Regions from separate parts of the Homo sapiens genome. Here region 2 is linked to region 1. The links come from fine-mapping of genetic effects on plasma protein levels. Region 1 holds a variant in brackets. A gene starts in the other region. All regions are shown on their forward strands.

Region 1 (16,238 bases):
TTGTTGCCCCAGCTGGAGTGCAATGGCACGATCTTGGCTGGCTGCAACCTCCACCTCCTGGGTTCAAGCGATTCTCCTGCCTCAGCCTCCTGAATCTCTGGTATTACAGGCGCCTGCCACCACGCCCAGCTAATTTTTGTTATTGTTAGTAGAGACGGGATTTCGCCATGTTGGCCAGGCTGGTCTCGAACTCCTGACTTCAGGTGATCCACCTGCCTTCACCTCCCAAAGTGCTGGGATTACAGGCGTGAGCTGCTGCGCCTGGTGTGTTTGAGTTTATACTGGGTAGGGAGTCATGGTTAACGCCTATAATCTCACCCAGAGTCTGAGATGGGAGGCTCCGTTGAGTCCTGGAGTTCGAAACCCCGTCACTACAAAAAAATATATATAAAGAAAAAAAAATTAAGCGGGCGCGGTGTGGCACCTGTGGTCCCAGCAACTCGGGAGGCTGAGGTGGGAGGATCACTTGAGCCAGGGAAGTCGAGGCTGCAGTGAGCCAAGATCACGCCGCTGCATTCTAGAATGGGCGACAGCCTAAAAAAAGTCAGCCTTAACAATAACAAAAAAGACAATGGCTAGGGCCCCTCCCAACCTTTCATGCCCTACCCGGAGCCCCTGCGCGGCCCTTACATTTAAAAGCCCCTTTGGGAGGCTGAGGTTGGCGGATCACTGGAAGTCAGGGGTTCAAGACCAGCCTGGCCAATATGGTGAAATCCCGTCTCTACTTAAAATACAAAAATTAGCCTGGCGTGGTGGCGGGAGCCTGTAATCGCAGTTACCCTGGAGGCTGAGGCAGGAGAATTGCTTGAACCCGAGAGACGGAAGTTGCACTGAGCCGAGATCGCGCCACTGCACTCCAGCCTGGGTGACAGGGCGAGACAACGTCTCAAAAAAAAAAAAAAAAAGCCCTAAAGGACCACTCTTGGATCTGATCCTGAGAAAGTCCCTTAGAAAACATGGCGACGCCAGCCTCACCACCTGTTTCCAAAAGCAGTGTGACGCCCTTCGCTCCCTTAGTCAAGCTAATCTTACTAAATAAGGAACAAGCTTCCCCTGAGGCTTGCCCTTCAGCGCACTGGCACTGCCCACCCGAACGGGCGTCACGGATCCTGGTCAGTCTCTAGGATCGCGCTCGCTGATAGGACGCTTCTGGTCGAACGTCCAAACAAGGTGTGCGGTGATTGGGCCGCGGAGGGCGGGGCGTTTGAACGGCGCGTGCGTGGGAGTTCCCCAGGCCGGCGTCATTAGGATCCTGGTGGGCGGTGGGACTTGGGTTCAAAGAAGACCAAGCAGGCAGACGTGTTCGGGGGCCCGCGGGTTCCGAGACTGGAGACTGGACCTTTGGCTGTCCCCACGTGCATTCTAGGTCAACGGTGCGGTGGCAGAACCCTGGGGCTCTCCCCCGCGGAACTCGGCCCTGGCCGAGGCCCCAACCACGCTAGTAGGAGGAGGCCGAGCATCCCTCCTCGAAATCGCGAAATCCCGGCCCGACAATGTAGCCACGGAGTCGAAAGCCGCGTGCGAACTTGGCACTCACAAAGCCTAGATAACCGTCTATTTTCTCCTGTAAAATAGGAGGGATGGACCCCCACAGATCATTGTAAAAGGTTCTTACAAAGAAAAATCCTCCTGGACTGGGCACGGTGGCTCACGCCTGTAATCCCAGCACTTTGAGCGGATCACACTTCGAGACCAACCTGACCAACATGGAGAAACCCCGTCTCTACTAAATTAGCCGGGCGTAGTGGCGCATGCCTGTAATCCCAGCTACTCTGGAGGCTGAGGCAGGAGAATCGCTTTAACCCGGGAGGCAGAGGTTGTGGTGAGCCGAGATCGCGCCATTGCACTCCAGCCTGGGCAACAAGAGCGGAATTCTGTCTCAAAAAAAAAAAAGAGAGAAAAGAAAAATCCTGGAAGTCAAGTAAAAATGTGTGAAGGTGTTTTATAAAATATGAAATATCTAGAATACACAAATCTATAGAAGGACTCGGGGAAAGGGGAGTGAATGCTAATAAATACAGAGGTTCTTTCTGGGGTGATGAAAATGTACTAGTACTGATTGTGGCCGCGCTAGCACAAAAATCCGTTTCATTGGCCAGACGCTATGGCCCAGGGAAAAAAAGAAGGACTAGGGGGAATGGGGAGTGAATGCTAATGAATATGCAGTTTCTTTTTGTGGTCATGAAAGTGCACTAAAATTTTCATGCTAGCACAAAAATTGAATTGTACACTTCAAATAGGTGTATTTGTGATGTGCATTCTAGCTCCATAAAACTCAAAATGTGTGAAAATTCTTTGTAACTTTACTAAAAATTGGGGGCACTCTATAGTTTACAAAACTATCCCCATCCAGGCAGGGCACGGTGGTTCACACCTGTAATCCCAGCACTCTGGGAGTCTGAGGCGGGCGGATCACCTGAGGTGAGGAGTTCAAGACCAGCCCGACCAACATTGTGAAACCCCGTCTCTACTAAAAATACAAAATTAGCCGGGCGTGGTGACGCATGCCTGTAATCCCACTTACTCGGGAGGCTGAGGCAGGAGAATCGCTTGAACCCGGGAGGCAGAGGTTGCAGTGAGCTGAGATCGCACCATTATACTCCAGCCTGGGCAACAAGAACAAAACTCCGACTCAAAAAAAAAAAAATTCTCCATCTAGTCCTCTGAGGTGAGCAGCATTTTGTTTGTTTGTTTGTTTTGTTTGTTTTGAGATGGAGTCTCGCTCTTGTTGCCTAGGCTGGAGTGCAATGATGCGATCTCAGCTCACTACAACCTCTGCCTCCCAGGTTCAAGCGATTCTCCTGCTTCAGCTTCCCGTGTAGCTGGGATTACAGGTGCGCACTACCATGCTTGGCTAATTTTTGTATTTTTAGTAGAGACAGGGTTTCACCATGTTGGCCGGGCTAGTCTCGAATTCCTGACTTCAGGTGATCCACCCACCTCAGCCTCCCAAAGTGCTGGGAGTACAAGTGTGAGCCACCGAGCCCTGCTTATTTATTTATTTATTTATTTAGAGACAGAGTCTCTGTCATCCAGGCTAGAGTGCAGTGGCACTATTTCAGCTTACTACAGCCTCCGCCTCCCAGAGCTAAAGCAATTCTCCTGCCTCAGCCTCCTGAGTAGCTGGGATTACAGGCATGTGCCACCACACCCGGCTAATTTTTGTATTTTTAGCAGGTGGCGTTTCGCCATGTTGGCCAGGCTGGTGGTGGCACAATTGGAGGGCAGAAGGGACAGTAAAAGATGCCCTAGAAGCTCAGAAGAAGGAAAGACCTCAGAAGGCTTCGACGCATGGGTGGGGCTGCTGTTGCAGCTGGACCTTCAAGGATGATAGAATCTAAACAAATGCAGTAGTAATGAAAGAGGTAAAAGATGGGAAACCATGGAAAATATACAGAGGTAATAATTAGATGAAGCCCCCACGTGGTGACTTGTGCCTGAAATCACAAGTGTGCCCAGAAACGGGGCCTCACTGTGTTGTCCAGTCTGGTCTCGAACTCCTGTTTCAAGCAATCTTCATGCCTCAGCCTCCTAAAGTGCTGGGATTACAGGAGTGAGCCACTGCATCCGGCCACCCTTCATTTTAAAAGTACATTTCTGGCCAGGTGCGGTGGCTTATGCCTGTAATCCCAGCACGTTGGGAGTCCAAGGCGGGCCAATCACTTGAGGTCAGGACTTCAAGACCAGCTTGGCCAACATGATGAAACCCCATCTGTACTAAAAATACAAAAATTAGCTGGGTGTGGTTGTGTGAACCTGTAATTCCAGCTGCTCAGGCGGCTGAGGCACGAGAATAGCTTGAACCCAGGAGACAGAGGTTGCAGCAAGCTGAGATCGCACCACTGCACTCCAGCCTGGGTGATAGAGTGAGACTCAGTCTCAAAAAAAAAAAAAAAAAAACCACATTTCTGCCCAGGCGCATTGGCTCATGTCCATAATCCAGCGCTTTGGGAGGCTAAGGTGGGTAGATCACCTGAGGTCAGGAGTTGGAGACCAGCCTAGCCAAAATGGTGAAACCCCTTCTCTACTAAATACAAAAAATTAGCTGGGCGTGGTGGCAGGTGCCTGTAATCCCAGCTACTCAGGAGGCTGAGGCAGGAGAATCGCTTAAACTGGGAAGGCGGAAGTTGCAGTGAGCTGAGATCGTGCCATTGCACTCCAGCCTGGACAACAGCGAAACTCTAAAAAAAAAAAAAAAAAATTAGCCGGGCGTGGTGGCATCCGCCTGTAATCCCAGCTACTCAGGAGGCTGAGGCAGGAGAATCACTTGAACCCAGGAGGTAGAGCTTGCAGTGAGCCAAGATCGCACCATTGCACTCCAGCCTGGGCAACAAGAGTGAAACTCCATCGCAAAAAAACATAATAGTAAGGCCGGGCGCGGTGGCTCAAGCCTGTAATCCCAGCACTTTGGGAGGCCGAGGCGGGCAGATCACAAGGTCAGGAGATCAAGACCATCCTGACTAACACGGTGAAACCCCGTCTCTATTAAAAATACAAAAAATTAGCTGGGTGTGGTGGCGGGTGCCTGTAGTCCCAGCTGCTCAGGAGGCTGAGGCAGGAGAATGGCATGAACCTGGGAGGCGGAGCTTGCAGTGAGCCGAGATCGTGCCACTGCACTCTAGCCTGGGCGACAGAGCAAGACTCCATCTCAAAAAATAATAATAATAATAATAATAATAAATAAATAAAATATATTTCCCCAAGGTTCAAGCCTCCACCCTCTTTGCCTTGGTTTCAATATACTGTAGGCCAGTGATTCCCAACTGGGGGTGACTGCTCCTAGAGGGCATTTGGCAATGTCTGGAGACATTTTTGTTTGTCACAAATGGGCAGAAAGACAGGGAGGAGACGTAGGTGCTACTGACATCTAGTGGGTAGAGGCTAGGGATGCTGCTATTAATACTACATCCTACAATGCACAGGACAGCTCTTCACAGGAATTATCTGGTCCAAAATATTAATTGCTCTGAGGTTGAGTAACCCCCTTCTAGGCCAACACATCTAAATGGCTGCTAAATATTTTCACATGATTATTGGGTTATGAGTTTATTTTTCCTAGAAACTTTCACTGACTACTCAATTAGACTTCCCTCCTGTTACTAGCAATATTAGACCTAATGTCCCAAAACATGGGTGTTATCTGAGTCCTTCCTTTCCATGCTTTTCCCTGCCAGTCCTGAGAGTCCATTATGTACTGGTAGATTAGGATAAATCAGTTATTTTATTTAAAAATGTTCATTCTGAGGCCAGGCACAGTGGCTCACGCCTGTAATCCCAGCACTTTGAGAGGCCCAGGAAGGCAGATCATCTGAGGTCAGGAGTTCGAGACCAGCCTGGCCAACATGGTGAAACCCCATCTCTACTAAAAATACAAAAATTAGCCGGGCATGGTGGTGGGCACCTGTAATCCCAGCTACTGGGGAGGCTGAGGCAGGAGAATCACTTGAACCTGGGAGGCGGAGGTTGCAGTGAGTTGAGATGGCACTATTGCACTCCAGCCTGGATGACAAGAGCAAAACTCTGTCTCAACAACAACAACAACAACAACAACAACAACGGACCGGCGCAGTGGCTCACGCTGGTAATCCCAGCACTTTGGGAGGCTGAGGCGGGAGGATCACCTGAGGACAGGAGTTTGAGAGCAGCCTGGCCAACATGGCGAAACCCCGCCTCTACAAAATAAAATGAAATAAAATAATACAAAAATTAGCCAGATGTGGTGGCAGGCGCCTGTAATCCCAGCTACCTAGGAGGCTGAGGCAGGAGAATTGCTGGAACCCAGGAGGCAGAGGGTGCAGTGAGCCGAGATCACACCACTGCACTCTAGCCTGGGCGACAGAGCAAGACTCTGTTTCAACAACAACAAAAATAAATAAATAAAAAATTGTCCTAGCAGCCGGATGCGGTGGCTTATGCCTGTAATCCCAGCACTTTGGGAGGCCGAGGCGGGTGGATCACGAGGTCAGGAGTTGAAGACCAGCCTGACCAATATGGTGAAACCCCGTCTCTACTAAAAATACAAAAATTAGCTGGGTGTGGTGGCAGCCACCTGTAATCCCAGTACTTGGGAGGCTGAGGCAGAGAATTGTTTGAACCTGGGAGGCAGAGGTTGCAATGAGCCAAGATCATGCCACTGCACTCCAGCCTGGGCAACAGAGTGAGATTCCATCTCAAAAAAAAAGAAAAGCAAAAATTATCAGGGTGTGGTGGCAGGTGCCTGTAATCCCAGCTACTCGGGAGGCTGAGGCAGGAGAATTGGTTGAACCCAGGAAACAGAGGTTGCAGTGAGCCAAGATTGCACCACTGCACTCCAGCCTGGGCAACAGAGCAAGACTCCTTCTCAAAAAATAAAAAATTGTCCTAGCATGGTGGTGTGCGCCTGTAGTCCCGGTTACTTGGGAGGTGGAGGTGGGAGGATCCCTTGAGCCTGGGAGGCAGAGGTTGCAATGAGGTGAGATTGTGCCCCTGCACTCCAGCCTAGGCAAAAGAGTGACACCCTGTCTCAAAAAAAATAAATAAATAAAACAAGAAAACAGAGTCAGGTGCTCATGCCTATAATACCAGCACTTTGGGAGGCCGAAGTGGTAGGACTGCTGGGGTCCAAGAGATCAAGATAACCTGGGTAACAAAACAAGACCCTGTCTCTACAAAAAATTAAAACATAAAAACTTAGCTGAGCGTGGCAGTGCGTGCCTGTAGTCCCAACTACTCAGGAGGCTTAGGCGGGAGGATCGCTTGAGCCCAGTGGCTAGAGGCTGCAGTGAGCCATGCCTGCACCGTTGCACTCCAGCCTGAGCAACAGAGCAAGACCCTGTCTCTTAAAATAAAAATTAGGGCTGGACGTGGTGGTCATGCCTATAATCCCAGCACTTTGGGAGGTGAGGCAGGTGGATCACTTGAGGTCAGGAGTTCAAGACCAGCCTGGCCAACATGATGAAACCTGTCTCTACTAAAAATACAAAAATTAGCTGAGCATGCTGGTGTGCACCTGTAATCATGAAAAGTCAGGATTAAAACCATGCGTATATGTTCGTGTTTATATAAAAAATGAATTTAGATTCTCTACTCAGTTATTAACCTGTTCTCATGTACATGGATGGCCATGGGGCATTCTGCAAATGATGGTGGAGGAGGGACAGTTTTTCACTAAGTGAGACTGTCTGGCACTGTGTAGGACACAACTGATCCCCATGGGTTAACCCATTAATGCCAGAGGTCCTCCATCACTCACTGCGACCAAAACACCCCCTCCTAAAAATTCACAAAACAACCCCTAAGGGGTGGCACTGCCCCTGAGGAGAGCCACTGCTTTCAGGCCACGGAATTAGAGCACAAGGTTCAGCATCTGAGGCGGGATCTGCAGGGATTGGGAGGTGAAAGGATTATTCAGGACTCAGGGAAGCTCAGCTTAATTGGAAGAAAAAGGTAGTGGGGAAAAAATGGGGGGTACAAGCATATGACAACTTCAATATGACAACTTCACCAAATCTCCTAGCAAAGCCCTACCCAAGCATTACATACTGACATATACATTACTTAAATTTTTATTTTTTTGAGATGTAGTCTTGCTCTGTTGCCTAGGCTGGAGTGCAGTGGTGCAATCTCAGCTCACTGCAACCTCCGCTTCTAGGTTCAAGAGATTCTCCTCCCTCAGCCTCCTGAGTAGCTGGGACTACAGGCATGCACCACTATGCCCAGCTAATTTTTGTATTTTTAGTAGAGATGGTGTTTCACCATATTGGCCAGGCTGGTCTTGAACTCCTGACCTCGTGATCCACCTGCCTCGGCCTCCCAAAGTGCTGGGATTACAGGCATGAACCACTGCGCCCAGCCAAAATATATATATATAGAGAGAGAGAGAGAGAGAGAGAGAGAGACAGGTTCTGGCTCTGTTGCCCAGGCTGGATTGCAGTCGTGGCATCTCAGCTCACTGCAACCTCTGCCTCCTGGGCTTAAGCCATCCTCCCACCTCAGCCTCCGGAGTTGCTGGGACTACAGGCTCACACCACCATTCCTGGCTA[A/AT]TTTTTTTTTTTTTTTAGAGACAGGGTTATGCCATATTGCCCAGGCTGGTCTCAAACTCCTGAACTCAAGCAGTCTGCCTGCCTCAGCCTCCCAAAATGCTGGGATTACAGGCGTGAGCCACTGCTCCCAGCGTATTTAAAAAATTTTTTAAAGAATAATGTAATACAGAAAAGTGCACAAACCCTAAGTGTAGGCTCAATGCATTGTCACAAAGTAAACACACCCATATCAAGAAACCAGTACCCATATCAAGAAACCAAAACATTGGCTGGGTGTGGTGGCTCATGACTACAGTCCCAGCCCTTTGGGAGCTGAGGCTGGGGAGGAATGGGTGAGGCCAGGAGTTCAAGAGGAGCCTGGACAACAGAGTGAGACCCCCTCTCTACAAAAACAAAACAAAACAAAAAATATATACATATATATTTAGCTGGGCATGGGGGTTCACACCTGTAGTCCCAGCTACTTAGGAGGCTGAGGTGGGAGGATTGCTTGAGCTCAGGAGTTCAAGGTTGCAGTGAGCCATGATCGCAACACTGCACTCAAGCCTGGGCAACTGAGCAAGACCCTCCCTCCTTTTTTTTTTCTTTACTCTACTTCTCTCCAGCAGAGACCCTGTCTCTACAAAGCAAAACAAAACATCTGTAGCATCCTAAAGGCTCATGTCCCTCCTAGTTACTACCCTACCACAAGAGTAACCACTAGTTCAATTTATTTTTCTTTATTTTCTGTTAGAGATGGGAGTCTTGAACTCCTGGCTTCAAACAATCCTCCCATCACAGCCTCCCAAGTAGCTGGGGTTACAGTTGTGAGCCACCATGCCCACCGTGTAGTTGTAACATTTATTTTTTATTTTATTTTTATTTATTTATTTTTTTATTTTTTGAGATGGCGTTCCGGTCTTATTGCTCAGGCTGGAGTGCAATGGTGCGATCTCGGCTCACTGCAGCTTCCGCCTTCCGGGTTCAAGTGATTCTCCTGCCTCAGCCTCCCGAGTAGCTGGGATTACAAGCATGTGCCACAACATCCAGCTAATTTTGTACTTTTAGTAGAGACGGGGTTTCTCCATGTTGGTCAGGCTGGTCTCAAACTCCCAACCTCAGGTGATCCACCCATCTCGGCCTCCCAAAGTGCTGGGATTACAGGCGTGAGCCACCGCGCCCAGCCTGTAATATTTATTTATTTATTTATTTATTTATTTATTTATTTATTTATTTATTTTTGAGACAGAGTCTAGGCTGGACTGCAGCAGCACGATCTTGGCCCACTGCAACCTCTGCCTCCCCAGTTCAAGCAATTCTCACACCTTAGCCTCCTGAGTAGCTGGGATTACAGGTGCACACCACCATGCCCAGCTAATTTTTTGTATTTTTAGTAGAGACGCAGTTTTGCCATGTTGGCCAGGCTGGTCTCAAACTCCCAACTTCAGGTGATCTGCTTGCCTTGGCCTTCCAAAGTGCTGGGATTACAGGCATGAGCCAATGTGTCCAGCCTATATTGACTTTTAAAAGTAGTATTATAGATGTTTTATTTATCTATTCATTAATTTCATCAGAGTAAAAGGAGTGTTCAAAACTTTTTTTTTTTTTTTTGGCCGGGCACAGTGGCTCATGCCTGTAATCCCAGCAGTTTGGGAGGCCGAGGTGGGCAGATCACGAGGTCAGGAGATTGAGACCAGCCTGGCCAACATGGTGAAACCCCGTCTCTACTAAAATACAAAAAATTAGCTGGGCATGGTGGCACGTGCCTATAGTCCCAGCTACTCCGGAGGCTGAGGCAGGGGAATTGCTTGAATCCAGGAGGCGGAGGTTGCAGTGACCCGAGATTGTGCCACTGCACTCCAGCCTGGTGACAGAGCGAGACTCTGTCTCAAAAAAGAAAAAACAAAACAAACAAACAAAAAAAACTTTTTTTTTTTTTAAGACGTGTGGCCAGGCCCAGTGGCTCACACCTGTAATCCCAGAGCTTTGGGAGGCTGAGGCAGGAGGATCACTTGAGCCCAGGAGTTCAAGACTAGCCTGGGCAACATAGCGAGACCACCCTTATCTCTATAAAAATTTTTCTTTTTTTTCTTTTTTTTTTTAAGGCAGAGTCTTGCTCTTTCGGGCAGGCTGGAGTGCAGTGGCATGATCTCAGCTCACTGCAACCTCCACCTCCCGGGTTCAAGCATTCTCCTGCCTCAGCCTCCCAAGTAGCTAGGATTACAGGCTCGAGCCACCACACTGGGCTAATTTTTTGTATTTTTGTTAGAGACGGGGTTTTGCCATGTTGGCCAGGCTGGTCTTGAACTCCTGACCTCAAATGATCTGCCCACCTCAGCCTCCCAAAGTGTTGGCATTACAGGCATAAGCCACCGCACCCAGCCCAAAAATTGTTTCTTAATTACCCGGGTGTGGTGGCATGTGCCTGTAGTGTTAGCTACTTGGGAGGCTGAGGTGGCAGGATCACTTGAGCCTGGGAGGTCAAGGCTACAGTGAGCTATGATCACGCCAATGCACCCAGCCTGGGTGACCAAGCCAGACTCTGTCTCAAGAAAAAAAAGGCATGTGTTAGCTCTGATGGGCTGACAACCAAATTATCTACATTCTCCTCAATTTCTGCCCCTGGATCTCTGCACTTGCAGTGATGACTGATGCACAGTCTTCCTTCCCAACTCCCTTTCCTTAAAGTCACATTGTTCATCACCTTCTCTGGGAAGCATTCTCCTGTAGCTCTGCAATGTGCCCTTTTGGGAACCTGTACATAAGTTGAGTTGAGCATTTATCTCATCGTGTTGGTCTATTTCATTGTCTCTGAAGACAAGGACGCTCACTGTCTTGTCCACCATAGTGTTTTTGTGTCTGGCTCATTGCTGGAGTTCAACAAATGTACTGAACAAATAAATAGACACCTCAGCCCATATTTAGAGCCCTCCTGCCCCCACAAAAACCTTGACTGTCCCATGTTTAGGCCTTCCTCTTTCTCTAGAGCAAAGGTCACAGTGGTGTGAATCTGTTTTCTGTCTCTTAGACCTCAATGCCTCAGCATTGCCACTCTAGCCATGAGTATTGATCTCCAGACACCTCTATCTGGAAATTTTTTTTTTTTTTTTTAGAGACAGGGTCTCACTCTGTTGCCCAGGCTGGAGTTCAGTGGCTCCATAAACAGCTCATTGCAGCCTTGACCTACCGGGCTCAAGTGATCCTCCTGCCTCAGCCTCTGGAGTAGCTGGGACTCCAGTTGCAGGCCACCATCCCCGGCTGGACTCGCTTTCTGAATGTTGCCTAGATCTGGCCTCCACATGAAAGTATAGGATGCCAGGAATCACCTTTAGACAAGCTGGCAGCTGCCCAGCCCAGCTTCCTCCACTTCATCTGAGCCATCTGTCCTCAGAGGCACCATCAGTGCTCATTTTCTTTTTTTTTTTTTTTTCAGGTGTGACAGCAGCATTCAAAACGACTTTAAGGATTATGTCTGCAATGCAGACTTTACACCTCTCCTGCAAATGGCCCATCCTCTAAAATATCTGCACAGTAATTGCAAGTGGGGACTTTCAAAATTCAGATATTCCATTTTATTTAATGCTGAAACACTAGTACCTACATTTGTTGGTGATGATTAAGTCTGGGTCAAATCAAGACAGAGAAACCACATGGTAATTTGAACAAGGAAAGGTTTAATATTTTAAAAAAATCAACAATAGCCAAGTGCAGTGGCTCATGCCTGTAATCCAAGCACTCTGGGAGGCCGAGGCGGGCAGATCACGAGTTCAGGAGATCGAGACCATCCTGGCTAACACGGTGAAAACACATCTCTACTAAAAATACAAAAAATTAGCTGGGCATGGTGGTGGCAGGCACCTGTAGTCCCAGCTACTCGGGAGCCTGAGGCAGGAGAATCTCTTGAACCCAGGCGGCAGAGGTTGCAGTGAGCTGAGATCATGCTACTGCACTCCAGCCTGGGTGACAGAGTGAGACTCCATCTCAAAAAAAATAATAATAATATAACAATAACAGAGGATTAGAGAAATGATTAGATTGTGTATTATTTTTCTAAAACTGACATAACAAATTACCACAGATTCATTCAAGAGGGCTCAGCTTCACCCCACCTCCCAGACTGGAATGCAAGTCATAGCTCACTGCAGCCTCAAACTTCTGAGCTCAAGTGATTCTCCCACCTCTGCCTCCCAAAGTGCTGGGACTACAGGCATGCACCACCATGCCCCGCTAATTTATTTTACTTTTTTTGGAGAGATGGGGTCTCGCTTTGTTGCCCAGGCTGGTCTCAAACTCTTTGCTTCAAGCAATCCTCCCACCTCAGCCTCCCAAAGTGCTGGGATGACAGGTGTGAGCCACCCCGCCTCGCAAGAATCCTTCCTTGCCTTTTCCAAGCTTTTGGTGGCTGCCGACAATCTTTGGCATTCCTTGGCTTGCAGATGCCACACTCCAATTCCTGCCTCCATTGCTACATGGCATTCTCCCTCTGTACGTCTGTGCCTGTCTTCACATAACATTCTCCTTTCTATGTGTCTGTGTCCAAATTTCCCTCTTCTTGCAAGGACACCAGTCATTATATTACCGCCCATCCTAATCCAGTATGATCTTGATTACATCTGCAGACTCTATTTCCTAATAAGGTCATGGCTGGGCGTGGTGGATCATTCCTGTAATCCCAGCACTTTGGGAGGCCAAGGCGGGAGCATTGCTTGAGCTCAGGAGTTCAAGACCAGCCTCGGCCACATAGTGAGACCTTGTCTATACTAAAAAAAAAAATTAAAAATTACTTTGGGAGGCCAAGGCAGGTGGATCACGAGGTCAAGAGATTGAGACCATCCTGGCCAACATGATGAAACCCTGTCTGTACTAAAAATACAAAAATTAGCTGGGCACGGTGGCACATACCTGTAGTCCCAGCTACTTGGGAGGCTGAGGCAGGAGAATCACTTGAACCCTGCAGGTGGAGGTTGCAGTGAGGCGAGATCGCGCCATTGCACTCCAGCCTGGTGACAGAGCGAGATTCCATCTCAAAAAAATAAATAAATAAAAATAAAAATTAGCAGGGTGTGGAGGTATGTGACTGTGGTCCCAGCTACTCGGGAGGCTGAGGCAGGAGGACTGCTTGAACCCAGGGGGTCAGGGCTGCAGTGAGCCAAGATCCAGCCACTGCACTGCAGCCTGGGTAACAGAGCAAGATCCTGTGTCAAACAACAACAGCAACAACAACAACAACAACAACAACAACAAAATAAGGTCAGATTCAGAGGAAGTGAAAGGTTCAAGATTTGAAAATATCTTTGGTGGGGTGGGGGGGAGGTGGGGAGACAAAATTCTGCCCACTACAGATAATAAGAAGTAAACAGAATTCTAAAAAAAAAAATGCAAGAAGAGCAGATATTAGGTTGGTGCAAAAGTAATTGCGGTTTTGCCATTACTTTTAATGACAAAAACCACAGTTATTTTTGCACCAACCTAATACAAGGAGCAGCCACAGCTCCTCTCAGGCGGAGACAGAGCATACAAGAAAAAGGCTCCTTCTGGCCAGGCGCGGTGGCTCATGCCTGTAACCCCAGCACTTTGGGAGGCCATAGCGGGTGGATCATTTGAGGTCAGGAGTTTGAGACCAGCCTGGTCAACATGGTGAAACCCCATCTCTACTAAAAATACAAAAATTAGACAGGCATGGTGGCATGTGCCCGTAATCCCAGCTACTTGGGAGGCTAAGGCAGAATCGCTTGAGCCTGGGAGGCGGAGGTTGTGGTGAGCCACCACACTCCAGTCTGGGTGACAGAGTGAGACCCTGTCGAAAGAAAGAAAGAGAGAGAGAGAGAAGGAAGGAAGGAAGGAAGGAAGGAAGGAAGGAAGGAAGGAAGGAAGGAAGGAAAAAGAAAGAAGGAAGGAAGGAAGGAAAGGAAGGAAGGAAGGAAGGAAAGAAAGAAAGAGAAAGAAAGAAAGAAAGAAAGAAAGAAAGAAAGAAAGAAAGAAAGAAAGAAAGAAAGAAAGAAAGAAAGAAAAGAAAGAAAGAAAGAAAGACAGACCTCCTTCCTTCCTGAGATCCACAAGTTTTTGGAGAGGGCACAGAAGTACAGAAGTCGCTGAAGTACAGTAGTTGCTGGAGTGTCAGTCTGGTGGAACTTGCTGGAAATCCACCCTCTTGGGTGCCAGGGAAAGCTGTTCATGGGCAGGTGTCTCCACAGAGGAACTCCACTGCAAAACCATCCAGAGGGCACCTGGGGGAGCTGCTGACCCTGGGGTTCTGCTGGCCACCCTGCCCTGCAGAAGCAGGGAGCTGGGAACCCACTTGTGCTGCAGGAGCCTCCCAGGAGGGTTTGCTGAACTGGGAAGCAAAACTCTTTCTTCCTGCAATGTCTCTCCAGCCATCTATTGACAAAACTTAGCATGATGCTGGCTGGTAAAAAAAATTTAAATATATATATATATTTAAAGGGTCCAGGCCAGGCGCGGTGGCTCACGCCTGTAATCCCAACACTTGGGGAGGCCGAGGTGGGCGGATCACGAGGTCAGGAGATCGAGACCATCCTGGCTAACACAGTGAAACCCCATCTCTACTAAAAATACAAAAAATTAGCCGGGCGTGGTGGCGGACACCTATAGTCCCAGCTACTTGGGAGGCTGAGGTGGGAGGATCACTTGAGCCCAGGAGGTCAAGGCTACAGTGAGCCATGATCACACCACTGCACTCCAGCCTGGGTGACAGACCAAGACCTTGTCTAAGAAAAGAAAAAAGAAAGATGGGCCGCCCAGAGTCTAAACGGACCCTGAGTTTCTGAATAATGACACACTGAAGTGCACCCACGGCCACACCAGCAGCCCCACTGGAGGCTGTGTGGGGCCCTCTTGCTAATGCATCAGCATACACTGTGGTACACCCCACAGTGTGTCCACCACCTGTGTAGGCAGTGGGCAAAGTAAAGTTGTTGAAATGGGAAGTCACAAAAAGAGCAGAGGTGAGACCGCAAGATCATGAGGGCTCACATTTGCTGGCCTGGGCTAAGGGCCAAGACTGCCACAGTCTACCTTAGACTTCCATTTGATGAACTCTAGCACCCCAAGTTAGGGTCACACTGGTGGGCTCTTCCTACCAAATACTCAGGTCCAGGACTTTTCTTTGGACTACATCTTTTACCCTTGGTGTCATTGACTTCAAGAGACCTAGAGAATCAAAACTCAGATTAGGGCCAGGTGTGGTGGCTCATGCCTATAATCCCAGCAATTTGGGAGGCCGAGGCGGGCAGATCACTTGAGGCCAGGAGTTCGAGACCAGCTTGGCCAACATGGCGAAACCCCGTCTCTACTAAAAATACAAAAAACTAGCCGGCCGTGGTGGTGAGCACCTGTCGTCCCAGATACTTGGGAGGCTGAGGCACGAGAATCGCTTGAACCCAGGAGGCGGAGGTTGTAGTGAGCTGAGATGGCGCCACTGCACTCCAGCCTGGGCGACAGAGCGTCTCAAAAACAAAAAACAAACAAACAAAAAATACCTAAAAACTCAGGTTAGGCCTGCTCTGCTTTTGAAAGTTTTTCCTGCCCTGGGGCCTGAAAAGCACCTGTGGGGTTTAGGTCTTAATTTGGCAAGGTTGAAAGAATCTCCAAGCACTCACAGCTGGATGAAACATCACTGTACCTCCTCAGGCACCCATACTGCCAGCCCTGATCCAGAGGGAGAGAAACACCTCTACGTGGAAGAACCACGGCGGCCTGCTCCCACCAGAAGTCTGAATGGGTTTCCAGAGGACCCAGCGGACCTCCTGTTACAGAGATGCTGTAGTCCTGCAAGAACGTCTCCCTGCATGAGTCCTTAGGGACGGAGCTGGGGAGCCTCCATTTCCCACATAAGCCCTTCTCGATTATGCTTTCCATATCATCCCTTGTTTGTTTGTCTGTTTTGAGACAGGGTCTCTGTCGCCCAGGCTAGAGTGCAGTGGCGCGATCATAGCCCACTGCAGCTGCGACCTCCCAGGCTCAAGAGAGCCTCCCACCTCAGCCTCCTGAGTAGCTGGGACTACAGGCGTGCGCCACCATGCTCGGCTCATTTTTTTGTATTTTTTTTTTTAGAGATGGGGTCTTGCCATGTTGGCCGGGCTGGTCTTGAACTCCTGGCCTCAAGTGATCCGCTATCTTCTGCCTCCCAAAGTGCTGGGATAACAGGTGTGAGCCACCACACCCGGCCCTGTTTTATCACTTTCATCACTCAATCCCCTGAGAATTATGACACCTAAA
Region 2 (6,890 bases), not on the chromosome of region 1:
TAACAGCCCCGCCCCACCCCCAGGGCCCAGCAGGTGGGACCTGGGGCCACATGACCCCTCCCCCACCAGCCCCTGCCCTGCCCAGCTCACCCAGTGCGAGTAGATCCGTGCAGTTGTCGCCTCTGCTCATGGCTGCAGATGTGAGAGTCCACAAGCACACTGCTCTGAGCCGAGGGTCAGCCTGGTTCATGGCCTGACGGTTTCCACAGCACTTCTTACTCCCATCCCTCCTCAGGCCCGTACCCCGCAGCTCAGCATCCCCAATACTGGTGGTGGCAAAGTCTCTGGTTTCCGGGGAGGAAGGGGGAGGGGAGGGATGAAAAAAAGAACAAAGACCCCGCCCTGTGCCTGCACCTGCGCCACTCCTGCAGCTCCTGAGCTTCCCCCACCCTCGCTGCCCAGGCCCTTTGCCCCCCTTGAGAAGAGAAGCAGGCCTGTGGGTAATGTGCCACGGGCAGTTGAGTCCCTGAGGACTCTGAGGGCGGGGGGTGGGGGCAGAAGTGGTGTGAAGCAGGACTAACAAGGACAGGAACACCCCTTCTGCTCCAGGATGCCCACCTTCCTCCCTGACTCTGGTCCCAGAAGAAAGATGTATTCCTCAATGAGTATGGTATAAAGTGGAAGGGTCGGGGGAGCCTCCTGGTACCTCTGATCCCATCACACCCTAAGGCTGATCTGAGAGGATATGTGTTTAGATGATGCTTGTTATTGTTTCATTGGGGGCATTATAATTTGGGGGACACCCCCAAACCTCCCCTTTCAACCCACTTCATCCAAACTGTCTGTAAGAACTGTCACTCTCAATAATTAATTGCATTTTAAAACTCTTTGCTGTAGGACTGTCCTGGGAAACTGAGCCCTATCTTGCACATGTTCACTTCAGCGGGTGTAGTACCTGCCATACCTAGAGCTAACTCCATCACGTGCAAGGCTATTGATGTAGGAAGAGGGATTTTAAGTTGCAAATATAAACCTGAGACCAGAAGTCAGAGATGTGTTTTGTCTAGCCCATACAACATTTTTTAAAAGTTTAAAATCAGTGCAGTGGCATGCCAACAATAGGGATGGCAGAAGTCCTGCCCCTTGAGTTGCAGGCAATAAGGGGGTGCATTGTCTGTAGAGAATTTAAAAAATAAAAATCAGTCCTCTTATTATCACCATGTTCCAGAAATTCTGAAAAAAAAAATCAGTGATAAAATTATCCTCCCTGAAAAATATTTTATGGATCTAAGTTTTATATTTTTTTTGAGACAGGGTCTTACTTTGTCTCCCAGGTTGGAGTGCAGTAACACAATCTCAGCTCACTGCAGCCTTGACGATCTCCCGGGCTCAAGTGATCCTCCCATCTCAGCCACCTAAGCAGCTAGGACTACAGGCATGTGCCACCACACCCAGCTAATCTAGTTCATTTTTTGTAGAGATAGGTCTCCCTGTGTTGCCAGGCTGGTCTCAACTCCTGACCTCAAGCAACCTGCCCACCTCGGTCTCCCAAAGTGCTGGAATTACAGGCATGAGCCACTGCGCCCAGCCCAGATCTAACTTTTAAATTGCTGTAGTGGACCAGGTGCAGTGGCTCATTCCTGTAATACCAGCACTTTGGAGGCCAAGGCAGCAGGAGGATTGCTTGAGGCCAGGAGTTCAAAACCAGTCTGAGCAATATAGTGAGACCCTCCATCTCTACCAAAAAACAAACAAAAACAGTAGACAGGCCTGATGACACAAGCGTGTAGTCCTAGCTACTTGGGAGACTGAGGTGGGAGGATCACTTGAGCCCAGGAGTTGGAGGCTGCAGGGAGCTATGATTATGCCACTGCACTCCAGCCTGGGCGACAGACGGAGAGACCCTGTCTCTACAGTAGATGCACAAATACCATTGTCTTACAACTGCCTACAGTATTCAGTATGGTAACATGCTGTAAGCATTGGGGCCTAGGAGCACCAGGCTATACCATGTAGCCTAGATGGGTAATAGGCTACACCATCTAGGTTTGTGAAAATACACTCTATGATGTTTGCACAATGACAAAATTGCCTAGTGACTCATTTCTCAGAACATATCCCTGTTGTTAAGCAATGCATGGCTGTTTTTATGCTGACATGATTATATTTACAAAGTTCAAGGAAAGAAAATATTCACTGAGTTTATTTCTTGGCCCTTATTATTCATTTTATAATTGCCATTGAGAATAATTTTGTCATATAAAGAATGTTTAAATTTGTTTTAATTTTATTTATTTATTTATCTGAGATGGAGTCTCCCTCTGTCGCTCAGACCAGACCGCAGTGGCACAATCTCGGCTCACTTGCCCAGGCTGGAGAGAAGTGGCGTGCCTGGCCATAAAGCATTTTTTTAAATGATCCACTTGAAAAATAAAACTTTGTTCCAGGCATGGTGGCTCATGCCTGCAATTCCAGCACGTTGGGAGGGTGAGGCAAGAGGATCGCTTGAGCCCAGGAGTTCAAGAACAGCTTGGGCAACATGGCAAAACCCCGTCTTTACCAAAAATACAAAAAATTAGCCAGGTGTGATGGTGCACGCCTGTGGTCCCAGCTACTCGAGAGGCTGAGGTGGGAGGATTGCTTGAGCCTAGGAGGTAGAGGTTTCAGTGAGCCAAGATCAAGCCTCTGCACTCCAGCCTGGGCAACAGAGTGAGACCCTGCCCCCCACCCCCAAAAAAAGAAAGAAAACAAGAAAAATTTGGGTCTGGGCATGGTGGCTCACGCCTGTAATCCCAGCACTTTGGGATGCTGAGGTGGGTGGATCACCTGAGGTCAGGAGTTTGAGAGCAGCCTGGTCAACATGGTGAAACCTCGTCTCTACTAAAAATACAAAAATTAGCCGGGCATGGTGGCAGGTACCTGTAATCCCAGCTACTCTGGAGGCTGAGGCACAAGAATTGCTTAAACCCAGGAGGTGGAGGCTGCAGTGAGCCAAGATCACTCCACTGCACTGCAGCCTGGGCGACAGAGCAAGACTCCATCTCAAAAAAAAAAAAAAAAAGAAAGAAAGAAAAATTTGGGCCAGGTGTGATGGCTCACACCTGTAATCACAGCACTTTGAGAGGCTGAGGTGGGAGGATAGCTTGGGCCCAAGAGTTTGAGACCAGCCTAACCAACATAGTGAGATTCCCATCTCTGCAAAAAATTAAAAAATTAGCGAGGCATGGGGGCATGTGTGCCTGTAGTCACAGCTACTTAAGAGGCTGAAGTGGGAAGATTGCTTGAGCCTGGGAGATAGAGGCAGCAGTAAGCCATGATTGTGCCACTGCACCACTCCAGCCTGGGCAACAGAGTGAGAGCTTGTCTCAAAAAAAAAAAAAAAAAAAGACAGAAAAGAAAGAAAAATGTTTTTTAAATGATCCGGAACAGGCAAGGTGGCTCACACTTGTAATCCCAGTACTTTGGGAGGCTGAGGCAGGCAGATTCCTTGAGGCCAGAAGTTCAAGACCAGCCTGGGCAATACCCTGGTCTCTACAAAAAACAAACAAACAAACAAACAAAAAACAACAACAAAAAAACACACAAATTAGCTGGGCATGGTGGTGTGCACCTGCAGTCCCAGGTACTCAGGAGGCTGATCCAAGAAATTTGGGGCTGCAGTGAGCCATGGTCTCACCACTGCACTCCTGACTGGGCAGCAGAGGGAGACCCTGTCTCTCTCTCTCTCTCTCACACACACACACACACACACACACACACACACACACACACAAAGACCACTTGGTGTCAAATATGCTAAGTATGCCACTGATTCCTTGTCAACAGTTAAAAATTGGGAGATTTCAAATTTTTAAAATTCTAATTTGTTGATTCCTTCAAAAAAAGATCTGGCAATAGTGCCCTGAGTTCTCTAAAGGCAATAATCAGTTGGGGACCACTTATCATTATTATATCTGGCCTGAACCCCTTATTTACACCGACTGTGCCAACTGGCTTAGATTCAAGATTTCTATTACCCTGCTTTGCGTACCCAGGCTGTCACTGGGTCATCAGCTAGACCACTGGTCCCCAGCCGTTTTGGCACCAGGGACAGGTTTTGTGGGAGACAATTTTTCCATGCACAGGAGTATGGGAGGAGGGGATGGTTTTGGGATAAAACTGTTCCACCTCAGATCATCAGGTATTGTGGTTTTTTTGTTCTGTTTTGTTTTTTTGACAGGGTCTCGCTCTGTCACCCAGGCTGGAGTGCAGTGGTGCAATCTTGGCTCACTGCAACCTCGCCTCCTGGGTTCAAGCAATTCTTATGCCTCAGCCTCCCAAGTAGCTAGGATTACAGGCATGCGCCACCATGCGCAGCTAATTTTTGTATTTTTATTAGAGACTTTTTTTTTTTTTTAACCATATTGTCCAGGCTGGTCTTGAACTCCTGGCCTCAAGAGATCCACCCACCTTGGCTTCCCAAAGTGCTGGGATTACAGGCATCAGCCACTGCACCTGGCCTAGATTTTCATAAGGAGCCCACAACATCACGTGCATGCACAATTCACAATAGGGTTCGTGGCCCTATGAGAATCTAACACTGCACTGATCTGACAGGAGACAGAGCTCAGGCGGTAATGCCAGGATGGAGAGTGGCTGTATATACAGATGAAGCTTCCCTCGCTACTCCGCCGCTCACCCTTGCTCCTCCGCTGCTCACCTCCTGCTGTGCGGCCCAGTTCCTAACAGGCCATGGACCAATAGTGTTGGGGACCCTTGAACTACACTATGATAACTCCCCTTGGTGAGGGTTTCTCCCTGTCCTGCCCTTCCTCCTCCTTTCAGGAAAAACAAGAAGACACACCCATATTTCATTTATTTATTTATTTATTTATTTATTTATTTATTTATTTAGAGATGGAGTCTTGCTCTGACACTGAGGCTGGAGTGCAGTGGCGCGATCTCTGTTCACTGCAACCTCCGCCTCCCAGGTTGAAGCTATTCTTATGCCTCGGCCTCCTGAATAGCTGGGATTACAGGTGCTGGCCACCACACCTGGTTAATTTTTGTTTTTGTTTTGTTTTTCTGAGGCGGTGTCTCACTCGTTTGCCCAGGCTGGAGTGCAGTGGCACGATTTCGGCTTACTGCAACCTCCACCTCCCAGGTTCCCGTGATTCTCCTGTCTCAGCCTCCCAAATAGCTGGGACTGCAGGCGCCCGCCACCACACCCGGCTAATTTTTCTATTTTTAATAGAGACGAGATTTAGCCATGTTGGCCAGGCTGGTCTCAAACTCTTGACCTCAGGTGATCCTCCTGCCTCGGCCTCCCAAAGTGCTGGGATTAGAGGCATAAGCCACCGATCTTGGCTTCATTCATTTATTTAACACACATGATGTACTGATTGCCTGTTTGTATGCCAGGCTCTGGAGATAAAAATGTGATGAATGGAAATGGTTTCATGTCAGGGAGCTCTTGATCTAACTAGACAGATGACCCAGTGTATCCCAATTAAGAGACCATGGAAGGCTCTGTGGAACAGAAGGAATACCTGCCTGCCTGGTGAAGTCATGGAAGACAAGGATGGGGAAAGGCTGTTCGACAGAAGGTATAGAGACAGGCAAAAAACTGGTGAAATCACCACCCTGCCTCTTACCTGATTAGTAGCATACTTAACCTTGCTGAATTGCAGTTGCCTCATTCTTTGAAAGAGCTTAACTATATTACCCTTTTGGGTCATTTTAACCATTCATTAATTTCATTCAACAACGATTCATTGAGTGCCTGCTATCGCCAGGCGCCACGTGCTGTGCTAGGCTCTGGGAGTAAAATGGTAAAGAAAAAAGAGAGGTGGCTCCTGCCCTTGTGGAATTTAGGACCAGCCTAGCTCAAGGGTCTCCAACACCCGGCCACAGGCCAGCACCAGCCTGTGGCCTGTTAGGCTCCGGGCCACATAGCAGGATGTGGGCAGTGGGGCCAGCAATCATTACCGCCTGAGCTCCGCCTCCTGTCAGATGAGCACGGCATTAGATTCTCATAGGAGCGCGAACCATATTGTGAACTGTGCATGGGAGGGATCTAGGTTGCACGCTCCTCGTGAGAATCTAATGCTTGACGATCTGAAGTGGAACAGTTTCATCCGGAAACCATCCCTCCACCCCGCTTCGTCCATGGAAAAATTGTCTTCCACGAAACCGGTCCCTGATGCCAAAAAGGTTGGGGACTGCTTGTCTAGTGGTATTGAAGAAAGTGAAATAGCGGCACTAAAGAATAAATTAGAAGTTGAATTAAGGGTTCCGAATGATGGGAACACACTTGAGCTGAGAACTGAAGGTCGTGTAGAACCCAGTATGCAGAAAGGGAATGCAGCGGCATGTCAGGGAGAGTCAGTGTAATTTCAACTGTCTGGCTTACAGTAGTAGCTGCTCAAGTTAAAAAATCACTAGAGTCCGTCGGGGTGGCACGTGCCTGTAATGTCAACTACCCGGGAGGCTGAAGCGGGAGGATCCCAGGAGTTTAAGACCAGCCTGGGCAAGAGAGCGACCCGCCGTTCCAAAAAAAAAAAAATCACTAATAAGTAGGCACGGTTCTAACTTGAGTGATCCCATTTAATCATCATAGCTCTTGAAGTAAGTGCTTATCTTCATTCCTCAGAGTGGAAAGGAAGGCACGGAGAGAGAACTAAGTTTCACAAGGTCACCGCTCTTGAGTACAGGAGGCAGGATTCTAGCCCAAGCAGAGTCCATATGTTGTGTACCAGCTACACAGTGAATGGTGGCTACTATGGCGTTTGCCAAAGGGAGAGGGAGGTAGAAGAGGAGGCTGTTTCAGGAATGCTCCATATTTGGAGTAATGAGCACAAGGACTTCATAGCAAGGCCAAGAACAGCGTAAAGCTGCCCGCGCATGAAAAGCAGCCGCGTTGACCGGGCGCGGTGTCACGCCTGTAATCCCAGCACTTTGGGAGGGCGAGG

Direction of the effects. Positions count from the first base shown, and alleles are read on the strand shown. Strength reflects both the effect of a copy and how common the allele is.
For the plasma level of the protein whose gene starts at base 268 in region 2, allele AT in region 1 goes with a lower level than allele A (weak association).

The links. PIP is the chance, under the fine-mapping model, that this variant and not a neighbour inherited with it causes the effect. Protein levels are from antibody-based Olink assays in UK Biobank. Linkage for the fine-mapping came from a reference panel and not from the study's own genotypes, which makes the PIPs less certain.
Region 2: SIT1 starts here. The variant in region 1 is fine-mapped to the plasma level of the SIT1 protein (UK Biobank, PIP 0.96).

What each region holds. Positions count from the first base shown.
Region 1 is chr16:30,633,282-30,649,519 of GRCh38, forward strand. No RefSeq gene overlaps it. Among named protein-coding and RNA genes, the nearest start is that of PRR14, 9.6 kb to the right of the region's middle. RefSeq lists enhancers at 185-1,136, 1,137-2,087. The variant A/AT (reference allele first, on the strand shown) is at 8,022.
Region 2 is chr9:35,650,664-35,657,553 of GRCh38, forward strand. It overlaps SIT1 (signaling threshold regulating transmembrane adaptor 1), which reads right to left and starts at 268. Exons shown (of 5, transcript NM_014450.3): 1 at 91-268. The coding sequence starts at 190. RefSeq lists a silencer at 1-48 and an enhancer at 6,393-6,890.